Linked DNA regions of Homo sapiens: region 2 is linked to region 1. A link means that fine-mapping ties the variant in region 1 to the expression of a gene that starts in the linked region. Tissue or cell type: whole blood. Region 1 holds a variant in brackets; the other region holds the start of a gene. All regions are shown on one strand. Distances are from middle to middle.

Region 1 (7,776 bases):
TACTGGTCCATACCAGTCTCCCTTTGCTTGTACTGATCTGTTTCCATGAAGTGGCCTTCTCTGATTTTTATAAGCCAACAAACTACATCTGCACAAGGATGTTCTAAAACTTTATGTAAAAATGCTAGGACAGTGCAAATGTGTCAGCTGGGGAACAGCAGAGAAACCACGGCAAATAAGCTTCTTTGTTCTGGGTTGGGGTTGTGTGTGTTTGTCTTAATGGCCCATTGACTTGACTTCCCCACCAGTTTCCTCAAGGACAGAGATCTTATCTTGCTCACCACTCTGCTCCCATGCCTACCCCAGGACCCAACACATAATGAACAGTCTCAAGATGTATCAAATGAATGTTCGGGAACCAGTTCATGAACCCTTCTCTGGATGCCATCCCTGGGCAATTTGGATGTCTTTCTTCTGTCATCACAAGATAATCACTTAAGCAAAAAAACTCACACCTTCTCTCTAGCACTGAACTCTGAACTTTCTGAAAGTAGAAAATGCATCTGTGAGCTTTCTGAAGGTAGGAGATGCATCGTGGTGTGTTTGATGCCCTACATTCTGCCAAGCAAATCACAAGTGATCAATTTATGTGCATATAAGTGACCTGAACCGTTCAAGACAGTATTCCTTCATTCTTTGCCTGAAAGTCTTCCCTTCCAATCAGATTTTCATATCTCTGAGAGTACATCTAGGAAAACTGTTTCTCTACCCATAACACTTCTGTCACCAAATGTGGGGGTGGGGGCAGGGGTTCCGCACACCAAGCAACTCTCCAATTCATTGCAGACACCAACTGGATGTCCAATGATTCAATTCAATTCTGACACCAGCTACCAAGAGTTCGTGTCAGACCCCAAAGGTTAAAGGCACATTCTTACTAGACTGCCCCCCAATGCAGATCCCAATCAGAAGTAGTAGGTCCCCAGGCTACCCACACTGCTGTCCAAATTGGCTACAAATTGGCTGTTCTCATAAAGCCCTCAGGTTTCATAATTTGCTAAAATGACTCACAGAACTCAGAGAAACACTTTACTTACTATTCCTTCTTTATTATAAAGGATACAGATGAGCAGCCAGATGAAGAAGTACCTACAGCGAGGTCCAGAAGGGTCTCTAGAGTAGGAGCTTCTGTCCCTGTGGAGTTGGAGCATGCCACCCTCCCAGCAACTGGATATGTTCACCAACCTGGAAGCTCCTTGGTTTTTACAGAGGTCAGTTTTAAATCATTGTGCATTCGTGATTAAGCTCAATCTTCAGCCCCCTCTTGAAAGTTACAATCCTCTAAGCATGTGGTTGGTTTCTCTGGTTACCTAGGGGCTTTCAGCCACCAGTCACTTTGTTAATATACAAAAAGACATTCTTAGAAGCTCTGTGTTAGGATCTAAGGACTACAATCAAATATTATAACAAAATGTATGTATATAAACCAAAAGATGCTCCTATCACTCCTATCATTCAGGAAGTTACAGAATGTTAGAAGCTCTGAGCCAGAAATCTAGGGCACAGAATAACTATGTATTTCACATTATATCATGGTGCATGATTTTGTATCAAATACATTAACATGTATAGATGGCAACTCCGATACAAGTCAACAAAGGCTATACTTGCAGTGTTGCATAAGTGAGAACTCTATAGGAAAGGGCTTAGTTATGACACCTGTCCAAAAGGATCAGTCAGATCAACAAACACGTAATAACAGAGGAGAGAAAGATGCATGTGCAAAATGGAGCTCAGGGAGCCGGAAATTCAAGGTTGCCTAGAAACAGGTGGTGGGTGGAATGAGGAAATGAAACAGCTTAGCATTCCATTAATTTTTTTAAAGCTACAAATGCATTACATTTCTGAACCAGTCAAAATCTCCTGAGCATCCTTCTCAGCTCTTCCCATCCTATCCCCAATCTCCTCCTCTTGCTCTCCTATGGGGAGAAAATGGTGTTGGTAAAAAAAAAAAAGAAATGAGAAAGAGAATTCTGGCTTATGTCTCCTTAAAATATCAACACCAGGCCGGGCACCATGGTTCACGCCTGTAATCCTAGCACTTTGGAAGGCCAAGGTGGGAGGATTGTTTGAGTACAGGAGTTTGGGACCAGCCTGGGCATCATAGTGAGAACTCTGTCTCTACAACAAACTTTAAAAGTTAGCCAGTTAGCCCAGGTGTGCTGGCATAGACCTGTGGTCTCAGCTACTCGGGAGGCTGAGGCAGCAGGATTGCTTGAGCCCAGGAGTTCAAGGTTGCAGTGAGCTGTGATTGTGCCACTACACTCCAGCCTGGGTGACAGAGCAAGACCTTGTCTCAAAACAAAATAATAAAAAACCATCAACACCAGTTTTGGAAATGGTGTATCCATATTGGAAAAAGGAAAATCCCATCAGAAATACCTATGGCAGATTAGGGCTGCATTGCTAATGCTGGACTCATACCATAAGCCCTAACCCCAAAGAAACACAGATTTTTAACTTACTGATATACAGCCACAGAAGTGTCCAGGCTATGACTGCTAGGATGAATAAAAATACTGTGAAGAGAATGATTTTATTTTGTACATTCCAAAAGGGAACTTTTTTCTTGGATTGCTTCTTGGGTTTGGCTTTGCCAATGGGTCTTTGTGGTGGTCGTCTTCCTGGCAATGGTAGTCGTCTCCCTGGCAACGGTGGTCGTCTCACTGGCAGCTTCTTTTGGGCACTGACCACTTGGACTGAGATATTGGATATCTTCAAAAAAAAGAAATAAGATATGTTACCAAGTAGAAGTAGACAGGATCTTAAATGAAACTACCCAGTCAGGAGATGTTGGTACTAAAAGGCCTAAATATGACTATTTAAGCATTCATATTTATGTAAGTATATCAAATTATTTACATAAGTATAATAACTTGATTTGCACCAAGTCACAAAATTAAGATCAGATAAACTAGACATTACTGTATACAAACCCTAGTGAAATGGTTTCTATTGGGGGAACCAGCCCCCGATATTTCAATGTAGGTTCTTTTCTATTTTCCCTAAGTGTCGGCCGGTCTGAGAAATAAAGAGAAAGAGTACAAAAGAGAGAAATTTTAAAGCTGGGTGTCCGGGGAAGACATCACATGTCGGCAGGTTCCATGATGCCCCCTCAGCCACAAAACCAGCAAGTTTTTATTAGCGATTTTCAAAGGGGAGGTAGTGTATGAATAGGGTGTGGGCCACAGAGATCACGTGCTTCAAAGGCAATAAAATATCACAAGGCAGAAGGTCAGAGCAAGATCACAAGGTCAGGGTGAAACTAGCATTGCTAATGAAGGTCCACATCCTGCTGGGCACACATTGTCATTGATAAACATCTTAGCAGGAAACAGGGTTCAAGAGCAGAGAACTGGTCTGACTAGAATTCGCCAACCTGGAATTTCCTAATCCTAGCAAGCCTGGGGGTGCTGCAGGAGACTAGGGTGTGTTTCATCCCTTATCTGCAACTGCATAAGGCAGACACTCCTAGACGGCCATTTTAGAGGTCTCTTCCTGGGAATGCTTTCTTTTCCCAGGGCTGTTAATTATTAATATTCCTTACTGGGGAAAGAATTTAGCGATATTTCTCTTACCCATTTTTGGCAATAAGAGAAATATGGCTCTGTCCTGCATGGCAGTCAGACCCAATGGTTATCTCCCTTGTTCCCTGAACATTGCTGTTATCCTGTTCTTTTTTCAAGGTGCCCAGATTTCATATTGTTCAAACACACATGCTTTACGAACAATTTGTGCAGTTAACGCAATCATCACAGGGTCCTGAGGCTACATACATCCTCAGTTTACAAAGATGACGGGATTAAGAGATTAAAGTAAAGACAGTCATAGGAAATTATGAGAGTATTGATTGGGGAAATGATAAATGTCCATGAACTCTTCACAATTTATGTTCAGAGACTGCAGTAAAGACAGGCGTAAGAAATTATGAAAGT[A/G]TTAATTTAGGGAACCAATAAATGTCCGTGAAATCTTCACAATTTATGTTCTTCTGCCATGGCTTCAGCAATTCCCTCCATTCAGGGTCGCTGACTTCCCGCAACAGTTTCTAGGTTCTTTCCTCAACTCTCCAACTCTGTTGAATAGATGCTGTGGAGGAGAGGCCTGAATTTCATGGGGTAAAGTAGATTAGAGGACTTGAAGGTTAGGAGGTTAAGGTTAAGATTCTATGTGGGTAGAATCATGTGTGTACACAGCCCCTCCCCCCTCCTTTTTTTTTTTTTGACAGAGTTTTGCTCTTATTGACCAGGCTGGAGTGCAATGGAGTGATCTTGGCTCACTGCAACCTCTGCCTCATGGGTTCCAGCGATTCCCCTGCCTCAGCATCCCAAGTAGCTGGGATTACAGGCACTCACCACCACACCTGGCTAATTCTGTATTTGTAGTAGAGATGCGGTTTCACCATGTTGGTCAGGTTGGTCTTGAACTCTTGACCTCAGGTGATCCACCCACCTTGGCCTCCCAAAGTGCTGGGATTCCAGGTGTGAGCCACTATGCCTGTCCACAGTCCTTTTAGTATATGTGTGTGTTTCACATGTTTGTATTATATTGTTTTTCTCTCACAATCAATTATTTCTGGGCTGATGCAGGATTGAAAATAAGAAGATAAGTGAGTTCCCCACAGAAATGAATTGATTTCCTAGTTACAGCTTCATGACTGGGTGGTAGGAAGGAAAAGTAAAGGTGATATGATAATTTGCATAGATTGTACAAATTTGTGCAATTTGTAACTGCACAAATTGTTCGTAAAGCATGTGTGTTTACATACGGTTGTAGGGTTGTGGGTTTATAGGAATTAAATATGTTTGTTTTGCCATTGCCAGCCGCTGCCATTGCCAGCCACAGTTTCTCAATTATAAATGAAATAATTATTTAAAAGTAAATGGAAGAATGAAATAGAACACTCATTAGATTAGAAAATTGTTGGTTTAAGTGTATTGATGTGCATAGTGTTATGTGCAAGAGTAAAAAATACATTATTTAATTGTTTCCCTTCCTCCTCTTTTATTTTCTTGTCTACCCTCTGCTATTTGATGCTGTGAATTCTTTAATAATGTATTCAAGAGTTTAGCTTCATTTAAGGAGAGATTTATACAAGTCAGGGTAACTAAACTCCAGAGACGAAATAGCTTTTAACCACACATTCTTTTAAAGGCAACAATATGGAATGCCAATGCCAAAGAAATAATCTCTCTTTTGCACTGTCCTTAAGAGTTCTCTCCTTCTCTTTTCCTCTCCCTCACTCTTCTCTTCAAAATTCATGCCCTCCAGTCTTTAATCTTGCCAATTAATGGGATAATACGTGGCCACGTACACTCTGAATTATTCATGGCCCCTTCATTCTTTTTGCCAAACACCTTGTCAACCCCTGGAGTGAAGTGTTGCTTGTATCCTTTCTGGTGAAATTGAACTAGACCAGACATCATTTAATGTGGTGTCCTGCAGGAATGAGGACTGGGTTTCTAAAGAGAGAAACATTCCATTGTAGAATGAGTTGTCGATGGTATCAAGCTACTTTCAAGTGCTCCCCCAAAAGAAATAAAGAAACACGCAGAAATGCCAGTACATGTTGAACTGACAAAGCCAAGTTTGGATCTTTTAAGTGCAGAAACACATTATAGGCAGTCTCAGTTAGCACTGATTAAATTTTAAAATGGAATTTGTGTAGAGATCAGTACAATTTCCCTGGAGTTTTAGAAAAACGGCTACAAATCAATTGCCAAGTACAGCACTTTATAATAAGCTCACATTTGTAAAACCCATTAATTACCATAAGAAGATAAAATATTTTATTATTGTTTCCTTTATGTTTATAAGGTCATACAATCTCATTTTACTAACAGGGTCAACAATAAATGGCATTCAAGTAAGAGAAAGTTTCTCACCCTGTACTTACTTTCAGGTCAGCAGGTGCGGCTGAAACATCGCTGTTTTCTTTGTCCATTATTAGGCGTTTTGTGTGTGATCATCCAGGGGTGTCTCAAAGCCAGTTTTTGCCCCTTATATGCTCTCTTGAGAAGAATTGAGAGAACCGTCACCGCATTCAAGCTAGCTTTCAGAGGAGTGGAATCAATTTACCTCCACCGGGTTCAGTTCAGAAACTGAAGCCGCCTCATTGCTATATTGTAAATGTTAAAGGGACCTAGCACTCAGCTTTGCACCCCAAACTCAAGGATTCTCAATGTAACTTTCATAGGAGTCAGGCCTCTCAGAGTACAGCCAGCCTCAAGGCAAGGTTTTCTTATAAGAAACACAATCCTACAATCCAGTAACATTTAAAAATCATTATAATTTTTTTCTTGCATCTCCTAAAGAATATGAAGAGGTCTAATTTACAACCCTCAGCACCACATCTGAGAAGTCCTCACACCTCATTTCTCTTGCGTGGCATCTCTTGCCTGCTCCAGGAGACTCACTCTTCAGTCCTGCTCTCAACTCTCCAGCCATACTCTCTGAGAACTCATAATCCAAAGGGACTTTTTTCCATTTAGCTCCCCCTACTTCTTGCAGTCAGTCCTCAGTAAACCTGGGGCCCTTTCTGCTGTAAAGCCCCTGTTTCCATCTCTCCCATACTTCCCAATGTCAATCTGAATTAGATCCATGGTGGGAAGAATAATCCAATCCTGAGGGGCAGTGTCAGAATTTCTCTTAGCAGACGGGGAGAAAAAGGCAGGGATTGCTGGAACCTCATCACCCTGTGGGCACTGGGTGTCAACAGAAAGCTGATCTGTCACGCTTTAAAGGAGAAACACTGTTCTGCTGATCCAGACACAAACTTCAGCATCATTCACGGGCTGTGCATATGGCAAGTGAGAAACTGCCTGCTGAAAGTGGGGAAAGATTAGTTGAGTTGCTTCATACCTGAAATTTGATCTAACTTGGGGAAGATGAGACAGAATAACAAAAAAAAAAAAAAAAAAAAAAAAAGAATTAAGTCATGTACAAATTCGCCTCTTGGGTTTTGTTATTTATTATTCACATTGATGAAATTATTAATAATGGTTTAGACTTTATAATATTACTTTTAATGGCTCATCTTTCCAGTATTATTTCTCTACCTATTTCTAGAACTAACTCATATTTCACCAATATAAGTAAAATTTGTATACTTATCGGTGGCCATTGACAAAGACTCTCTTCTTGACCAAAGTGTTGTCAGGTTACTCTGAGCTCTCTTTTCAACTAGACCTTGTCCTTGGGCCTTGTCTTTGGCCCATCTGGTCAGTTTAGCAGGAATCCCCCCGCCTTGATATCTGATCACCCTTGATTTTGCTTTCTTTTTCTTTTCTTTCTTTCTTTCTTTCTTTTTTTTTTTTTTTTTTTTTTTGATTCAAGAGTGGCCTTGAAATACCCTTGATATCTGATCAAGTTCTTTATCCCCTACCCTTGATATGTAAGTCCTTGGCTGCCTGTAACAAGAATCCTGATTGGTCAGTTTAGCAAGGATGCCCCTTGGTGTTTCCCCTTAGTAATTTTCCAACCATGGACCCCCTCACTCTCTTCATTGACTACTAATCCCCAGCTTTCTTTGCTGTATTTGGAACTGAGTTCAGCTCTATATCGAATTCACTTTCTCCCGTTGCAACAGTGCTGAAGAAAATCTGTCTTTACAGCCTTTAACTAGTGTCCCCCCATCCTTTTTTCCCTTTCACACCACCAAGTGTGAAAAGTGGCAGCAAAATATCAGGAGGCTGTGTTAAATGTACCAAATTTAAAAGCAATCATAAAACCAACCAAAGGCTGCTTTTTCACTATCATCATGCCAGCAATTCTAAATAA
Region 2 (7,776 bases), 490 kb after region 1:
TCTCTTTTCTGGGCTACTGAGGTGGTCTCCTGAGTTGTCTCTACCTTCTCCTTCTTGTCCATCTTCACCTCATTTTCACATGAAAGTCAGTATGACTTTTTTTTTTTAAACAACACAAATACAGTCAGCCTATAAATGTCATGCCATCCTTTTGTTGGAAATACTTCCATGTCTTCTTATGGTTCTGAGATCAAAATAGAAACCTTTTAAAAGGGAAGCTGACCAGGTCCAACATGATCTGGTCCTTACCTGCCTTATCCTTTAATTGCTGTATTGCTGTCCCACTGGCATTTTCCCATTTCTTCAAACACTCCAAAGAGCTTCATGCAAGCTCTTTTCTCTCTCTGGGATTACTCACAATCCCACTCTGCCTCAGCCCCACCTCCTAAATTGTGGTAGTGTCTACTCATTCTTTAGACTTAAGCTATGGTGTTAATTTCTAAAGGACAATTTCAATGGCCTCTGTGATGTGCTCCTTCACAAGACTGTTACAGTATTTATTATCGACACTTATCACTGTTGCAAGTTTACATTTATTTACTTAAATGCTGTGGTCACTTCCTGTCTCTCTTATCAGACAGTAGCTCTTTCTGCTCAACCTTTGTATGCTGAGCACCAAGCCTAACCTTGCTTTTCTTAAAATGTACATTTGTTGAATGAGAGAGAGCTGAATGAAAGCACATCCCTCTACCAGTTATGCTTACCGTGTGTCTGAATGAGAAGGTTGTAGATTTTAGTCTGAATGCCCTCTGGATACAGAACAAGCATACACTCGTACCTTCCACTGACTGAACAAGACATATTCCTTAAGTGCAGAGTCCATTTTGACCCATTCTCAGGAGTTTCTGTGAAAGTCACAAGTGACTCACAGGGTCTCCCATAGGCACAGTAGAAGCCGTATTGGGGATGATAGACAGCAATCAGGTCTATCTTATTGGTGACCTTGGACCATTGCATCTGCACGAAGAAGCCTACTGTCTGTGTTTGGCAGGTCAGGTTGACATCAGAGCCAAGTGTAGCATAAACATTTTCTTCTGTGTTGACTGTTTTTTCCCAAACTCCTGAAAAGAAAGAACATGAGCCATGAGTTTAAATAATTCACATAGAATGACGCTTAATTAAAAACCCTAGTCACTTCAGTAAGGTGAGGGGAGCAACTGAGGAAATTTCTCCCTGGCTGCTTTAGGAATAGAGTAGAGCTTGTGTCTCACTCAGATAGAGATGCATGAGACAATATAAATGAGGAGGCATTTACGTAGAGAAGCTAGAGGTAATTACTGACTTCTAAATATTTATCTATGTGTTGGTCTGACCAAAATATAATTGAAGGTTTCAGACTACCTGTGAATAAAATTAAGCCTATTTGAAAATTGAAGCACACCAGCAAACTTAGTATGACGATTCTTCTTACGTTTAATATAATTGGCTTTTTGGGTTATAAAACGACAGCTGAATATAATACACACGTGATGCTTTCTGAAACTGCAAAAATAAATGATATGTGTATAGCAATTTCTTTGAAAAATACATGTTTACAAGGGCCTTTCATATCTTATCTTGTTTAATCCCCCTCACACGCCATAGGTGATGTTGTTAACCCCTTTTTATGAGGAAGAAACTGGGCCACAGAGAGATGAAACAGTATGCTCAAAGTCACACCTCCAGGCCTGGCGCAGTGGCTCACGCCTGTAATCCCAGCACTTTGGGAGGCTGAGGTGGGCAGATCATGAGGTCAAGAGAACCAGACCATCCTGGCCAACACGGCAAAACCCCGTCTCTACTAAAAATACAAAAATTAGCTGGGCGTGGTGGTGCACGCCTGTAGTCCCAGCTACTTGGGAGGCTGAAGCAGGAGAATCGCTTGAACCTGGGAGGCGGAGATTACAGTGAGCCGAAATCATGCCACTGCACTCCAGCCTGGCAACAGAGTGAGACTCCATCTCAAAAAAACGAAAAACGAAACAAAACAAAAAAAGTCACACCTCCAGTAAAAGAATGAATTCAGTTGCCCAGAGTCTGTGGTCTTTCTATAACCCTCATAAGTATAACAGTAAAACTCCAGCCAAGGAAGACAAAGAGACCTTTAGAGACCAAAGAGAACTTTATTTAATTCAGGCATCCAGGCCCACAGCAGACTCATGCCCAAAATGGCTGCTGACTCTGACAAAGAAAGCAGGCTTGCTTATATGTCGTTTGAGGTGGGAAAACAAGGCAGGATACAGGTTTCAGGCAAAGACAGTAAATTATTTAACCCGTGACAATTCTGAGAAAACTTACAATTTAGTTATCTTAACCAGTCAATCTTGAAGCTAGACAGAGATGGGGTAAGGTAAAACAGGAGTTACAGAAATATGTGGGGGTCTGGGGGCAGGCAAGAAGCTTGGAAGGTTGAGATAAGCTCACAGCTGCAACTTGTTAGCAATGCTGGGAGGGGCTACTTAAATTTCTTAGCCTACATATAACTTCTAAGTAACCTATACTTAATGTTAACTATTACCTATGTTATGCTTATTATTTTAAACTTTATTATTACTTATTTTATTTTATTTTCCTTCCACATAACTTCCAAACTGTCTCCCAAATTCAGTCTAGTTGATTAGAGTAAGAAATTTCACTTTCAATATACAAGGATTGAAAGGACCTCATCTAACCTTAGGTAGAGGTTCCACTTAGTATCACCTCTAATCGATGGTCTGAAATACTAGACATAAGTAGAGTCTCTTTCCCATCAGCAGTCTGACTGAGTGATACAGGACACTTAAAATGTGTTAAGCATTGAGACTGTGACATGCCTTCAATAGTGTTGGCCTCAGTTTTAGAATTAACATGGAATCCTGTTACAGAAATGATATATATTATTGTGACAAGTACCACTGAAGCTCACAAAAGGAAAAGATAAAAAGATGACAAGCAACTGAGAAGAAACAAGCCTCTTAAAAGTAAAAGTACTTGACAAATGGGAATTATCATACTTCTGTGGATGCAAAAGTTTGGTAGGCAGAGGTTAGTACAGTTTAATGTAACTTCCTGTGAGCTATCCTTTGCCTGAAAATATGGCTCTGATCCTATCTACAGCATTATATTCCAAATCTCTTTTGATTTAGAAATTCTCCTTAATATTTTCATAGCTATGTCTGAAAAGCACAGTTAATTCTTAAGACACTCAGGCTTACTATGATACTCTCATACTGTGGAATACAGAACTAATCTTGCTTCCTTCTCTTTTTAAATAGGCCCATTAGGCTCTCGTTCCCACTGTCATAAGGATTCCACTTTGTCTCCCAGGTTCATACCTACACATGCCTCATTAAAATTCAACGTGTTTTCAACTCCCAAAGACCTTAGTATTTGGATGAGAAATACTTGTTATATCCAAAAGAAAGAGAGTACTTGAGAGAGAAAAAAGTTAAACAAGGATCTCTGAGCGTTGATGGCTTTGTAATTTTTAATTTTTCCGCAGTTGTTTTGGCTACCATTTGGAGAGCATTTCATTTCCAAGAAACACAATTTGCCAATTACTCCAGAGATCCTGTTAGAAAGGAAATGGGTGAAAATGCCTCAGAGCAGTGGCACAAATGACCCATTCCCTTCTTATTTTTAGTGTTCATTAGTAATCATTTCTAGATTCTAGCATCTCTCTTATACCTGCCGCTTAAATACATAACTGAAACCCTTAGTAATGATTTGTCCTTTGGTGATCAATTTCAGCAGCAGTCACAAGGCATTTTAAATGAACAGAGGCCCCATCCGCCCCTAAAGCGGCCCATCCGACAAGAAGGGACAACTGGAAGTCTTACCCTTGACAAAATGTATCTGGATGATGTAATAGACAGCACAGTATTTCCATTTTTTCTCCATTGTCTTCTGAACACCTTACACCAGCATTTCTGTAATGATCACAAAGTCAATTGATGTTTTCAAGCAAACTCCAGCCACCCACTTCGTGCTAAAAAACCCGAACTCTACCACACACGCCTGGGTCTGTTTATCACTTGGCAAGCCCCCAGGAAATGAAACGTAGACAGGAAAGTAATGTGGTTCAGGACTGAGTATAACGTTCGACAGAACAATGTTGAAATTGTTCTCTGAAATTTGTGTATCACCTTATTTAAGAGACTTTTCAGTATCCAAAGAGTCTCTTATTCAGGATCTCTGTGTCAGTCAAGCTGCGTCTAAAATCCAAACAAAGGATATCACGCAGAGCAGTTGGCAATGTGCTTTTTATACATTTTTTTCAAGAGCACAAAGTCATTTAACAAATGTGAGCTTGGTGTTTTTCATAATAGTTTTTCTGTTCAATCTTAAGATATGTTTTCTTTCCAGAATTGCCCTGGGGTGAAAGAACAAAGAATTAACACATTTAATTTTAATAAAATCTGAAAAGTAACAGGGAATAGTGTCAGCTATCAAACCAAATTTTATTGTCTCTCCTCTTGCAGGGAAATGCACATTTCCTGGGAGTGGAGGAGTGAGGGCTACTTTTCTACCCCTCGTCTGGGAAGACGAGGGAAGGTTGGAGGTCAGATAGGGAAGTCTCCCACCAGGTTGGCTGGAGGCCATTTTTGTTCACCACAGAAGAGTTTATCCATGCCTAAGCCAAAGCAAGGCAGTAACAATCAGAATCCAAAGGCAGAGAATTCCCACCTCAGTGAGCTATTAGGCTTATTACATCTGCCTAGTTACTTCTATTTACAGAGAACCGCAAACAGGTTTCAGGAAAGTGACCCCTTGGTAAAAATGTCTGGCTATTCGTAGAACACGATGACTGTTCCCTGCTATGATTCTCTGATTTAATTGTATTAGTTTTTCAGCCTGAGATAAAATAGGCTGTCATCACCCTCCAACATTAAGAAAACAAGCATTAGACTGAGGACTACTGTAAGTTTGATGGACAAAGAATAACTACAAATAAACATGTGTGTCTTCATACAACCGTATGAATGATTAAAATATCCTGTGACCCTAATCTCATTACTAGAATATACGTACCACCTAGCAAGACCAAAGACAAATGAAAAGGCCAGTTGTAATCCTGAGATGGGAATTCTTTTCAGGTGAGGTGGAGATAATTTTCGTCAGGTTGTCATCATGTATACACCAATCTCTCCTATGCAAGGACTCGTGGTGAATATGGACGATGCTAAGACAGAAGGAAATGCTTTTGCCATTCAGGAGATTAAATTTAGATGGGAGAAGAGAGGTTTTCATGTAAATAAACAAGGGCGACTGTCTTCCTGGACGTCCAGATCACCCCCTATACCACCACTGCAAATACTTGCCATGATAATTGCCATACTTATTCAGTATTCCTCAGCTAATGATTTCTTGCAGAATTTAGATGTAGTTACTGCTTGCCTAGTCCAGTGCTCCCCAAACCTTTATTATCACCCCTTCCCAACTTCCCATGAGTTTCAGGTCACTGGGGATATTGGGTCAGGTAGTACTGACAGTGATTTTCCAGGGAAGGCCTGGGAACTCAAAGTCCTTTATAGAAGGTCAGGAAGAGACATAACTGCTCTGGGTAGCTTCATCTCTTCCCATTGCCCCTGGAAATTCTAGTAAATCAAAGTTTTATGAAGCATAGCAGCAAAAATAGTCCTGGAGATGCACTATGAAGATCCTGATTTGCACGTTGGTGTCCCTATTAAATCAGGACACATTACAAGCCTGGAGAAGGGATTCTATGATCTCGTTCCATTTTTCATATTAAGAGGAATTTACCTAAGTAGAAACCAATTCAAATATACATTTATTGAATTCTCTAAGAACAATACCCTCTTTGGGGTATTTAGACTTCTCCTATCTTTTATTGTATTAAAGTGAAACAGTTGTTCCAAAAAAGTCTGTAAACTCAGAAACATGGAAATGGTCGTTTATTTTCCAGTGCTACAGACTTACTTTCAGTAGAATTCTTGCCTCTCATTGGGGTTGGGCTACCTGAGCCATGCATTTAGTGGCTATACGGCAAATCTGTCTTCTGTGTATTGTTCAGGGCTTAGTTAATGATTCTTATATCTAGAAACTTCTATGGCCTGAAGCCATCAGATTTGATTAATTTTTCTTTGGGATCCACACAGGTTCTGAAAGTATAACAATTTCAGATGCATGGCCACAGAATATTAACTGAACGCTTACACTTCGGGTGTCCTGCAGCTGCAAGACCCAGGCAACAGCCCCTCCATGGCTGTTTGCATGCAGCAGGTGGCAGCAACACTCCGCAGACTGGCACGGCTATCCCAGGTGATGGGAATTGCCCCCACCGCCTTTCAATCCTGGTAATATTTTCTAAAGGCTCTTTCAGCATGGGGATAGACAGGCGTTCTCTATACTTAAAAATAACTCTTCTATGGAAGTCATGTCAATCTCTTCTATTATCCTCCCTACCCACCATATCCCGATTGCACAGGGTTTCTTCTGCCTTATAGTCTGCTGCACATAAGGAGAAAACAGAAGCAAGTCAGTTTCACACACAAAAAGAAATCGTGATCTTCTTGAACTGCAGAGGCAAATTCAATTATTTACAAAGAGAAGCAGGAACACACATTATTTCTGCTAAAGGCAAGCCATGATTGTGTGTTTTGGACAAACTTTTTAAATGCTCTAGCTAAACACACTCAGTGAGAAAAGGACATTTTCAGAAACAGGAAGTTGAGCAAAAGGTAAACTTACTTTTGTGGTTTTCATAATGGTTAACTCAAATATTACTTACTTATCTTTAAACACTTACTAAAAATAAAAATGGGAGTGCTATACTTTTGCATGTTTTCCAAAATGCTTAGAAAACATGATGGTTAAGGTTTCAGTTAATTAAAAAATACTTGCTGTATGTCAATTCTTAAGAGATTACTGAAGAGGCATAGTTCTAGATAATTTTAAAATACCAAAGATAAAACACAACCCTCAGTTTTAAGGCAGTTACCATTTAGCTGGGAGGAAGCATCCATGTGCACCAAAAAAGTCAAGCAGCATAAAGCACAGCCCAAATGAGAAGGTAGGGCAGGATTTTAGCAAAGGGGGAGTTATCTTAGGGGTAGAGTGGGCCAAGAGCATATGAAGTATGGAATCTAAACTTGGCCCTATAGGCGTCAGACTGGTAGAAACCGCAAGCTAAGTCATTCCAGGCAGAAGAAACAGGAAGAGCCAACACTTGACAGTGTTGAAGTTCAAGGCCATTTAGTGAGTGGGCTATTCCGGTTTAGCAGAGGCTGTATTAGGGGACTTGGAGCAGACAAAGCTGTCCAAGAGCTTTGAATTCTAGGCTAAAGGGTGTGGGTTTTTTCCTCATGTCAGAGAGACTCCCTAAAGATATTTCAGCATATGAGTCATATATTTAAAGTAACATTTTAAAAGGATAAATTGGGTGGGCGTGTGTGAAATGAATGGAAGAAAGGAGAACAGAGAAACAGAAGACTTGTTAGGAGTTTATGTTTCTTTGGGCACTTTAGGATGAGAATGGGCTGACTGGCATGGCGAAGCATGATGAAAGCAAGGTCATTACCAATAAAGAGGCTGTAAGGTGAGATGTACGATTGGGCATGGAATCAAAATATCCTATAAAGTTTCATGCCTCAGAATTAGGAAAAAGGGAAAACAAACAGAGTTGGATTCTTGCTGGAAGAACCACCCTAATCAAGGAGCAGTTATTAAATGATCAATAGATTTTTGATGGATGTGAAAGATAACCTATTATGGCACAGCTAGCAGTCCTGCCTTCATCAGAGTAGAGTTCTTTTGGTTTTCACTCAAATTTTATGAGTTTTATGAGTTAGCATGTAA

The links. PIP is the estimated chance that this variant, and not a neighbour inherited with it, causes the effect.
Region 2: CD96 starts here. The variant in region 1 is fine-mapped to the expression of CD96 in whole blood (GTEx, PIP 0.98).

Annotation. Positions count from the first base shown.
Region 1 is chr3:112,033,011-112,040,786 of GRCh38, reverse strand. It overlaps TMPRSS7 (transmembrane serine protease 7), which reads right to left and starts at 6,051. Exons shown (of 18, transcript NM_001395507.1): 1 at 5,894-6,051; 2 at 2,466-2,715. The coding sequence starts at 5,941. The variant A/G (reference allele first, on the strand shown) is at 3,936.
Region 2 is chr3:111,538,331-111,546,106 of GRCh38, reverse strand. It overlaps CD96 (CD96 molecule), which reads right to left and starts at 3,910. Exons shown (of 14, transcript NM_005816.5): 1 at 3,798-3,910; 2 at 705-1,061. The coding sequence starts at 3,858. LOC105374039 (a long non-coding RNA gene) reads right to left here. Exons shown (of 3, transcript XR_001740846.1): 3 at 4,104-4,172.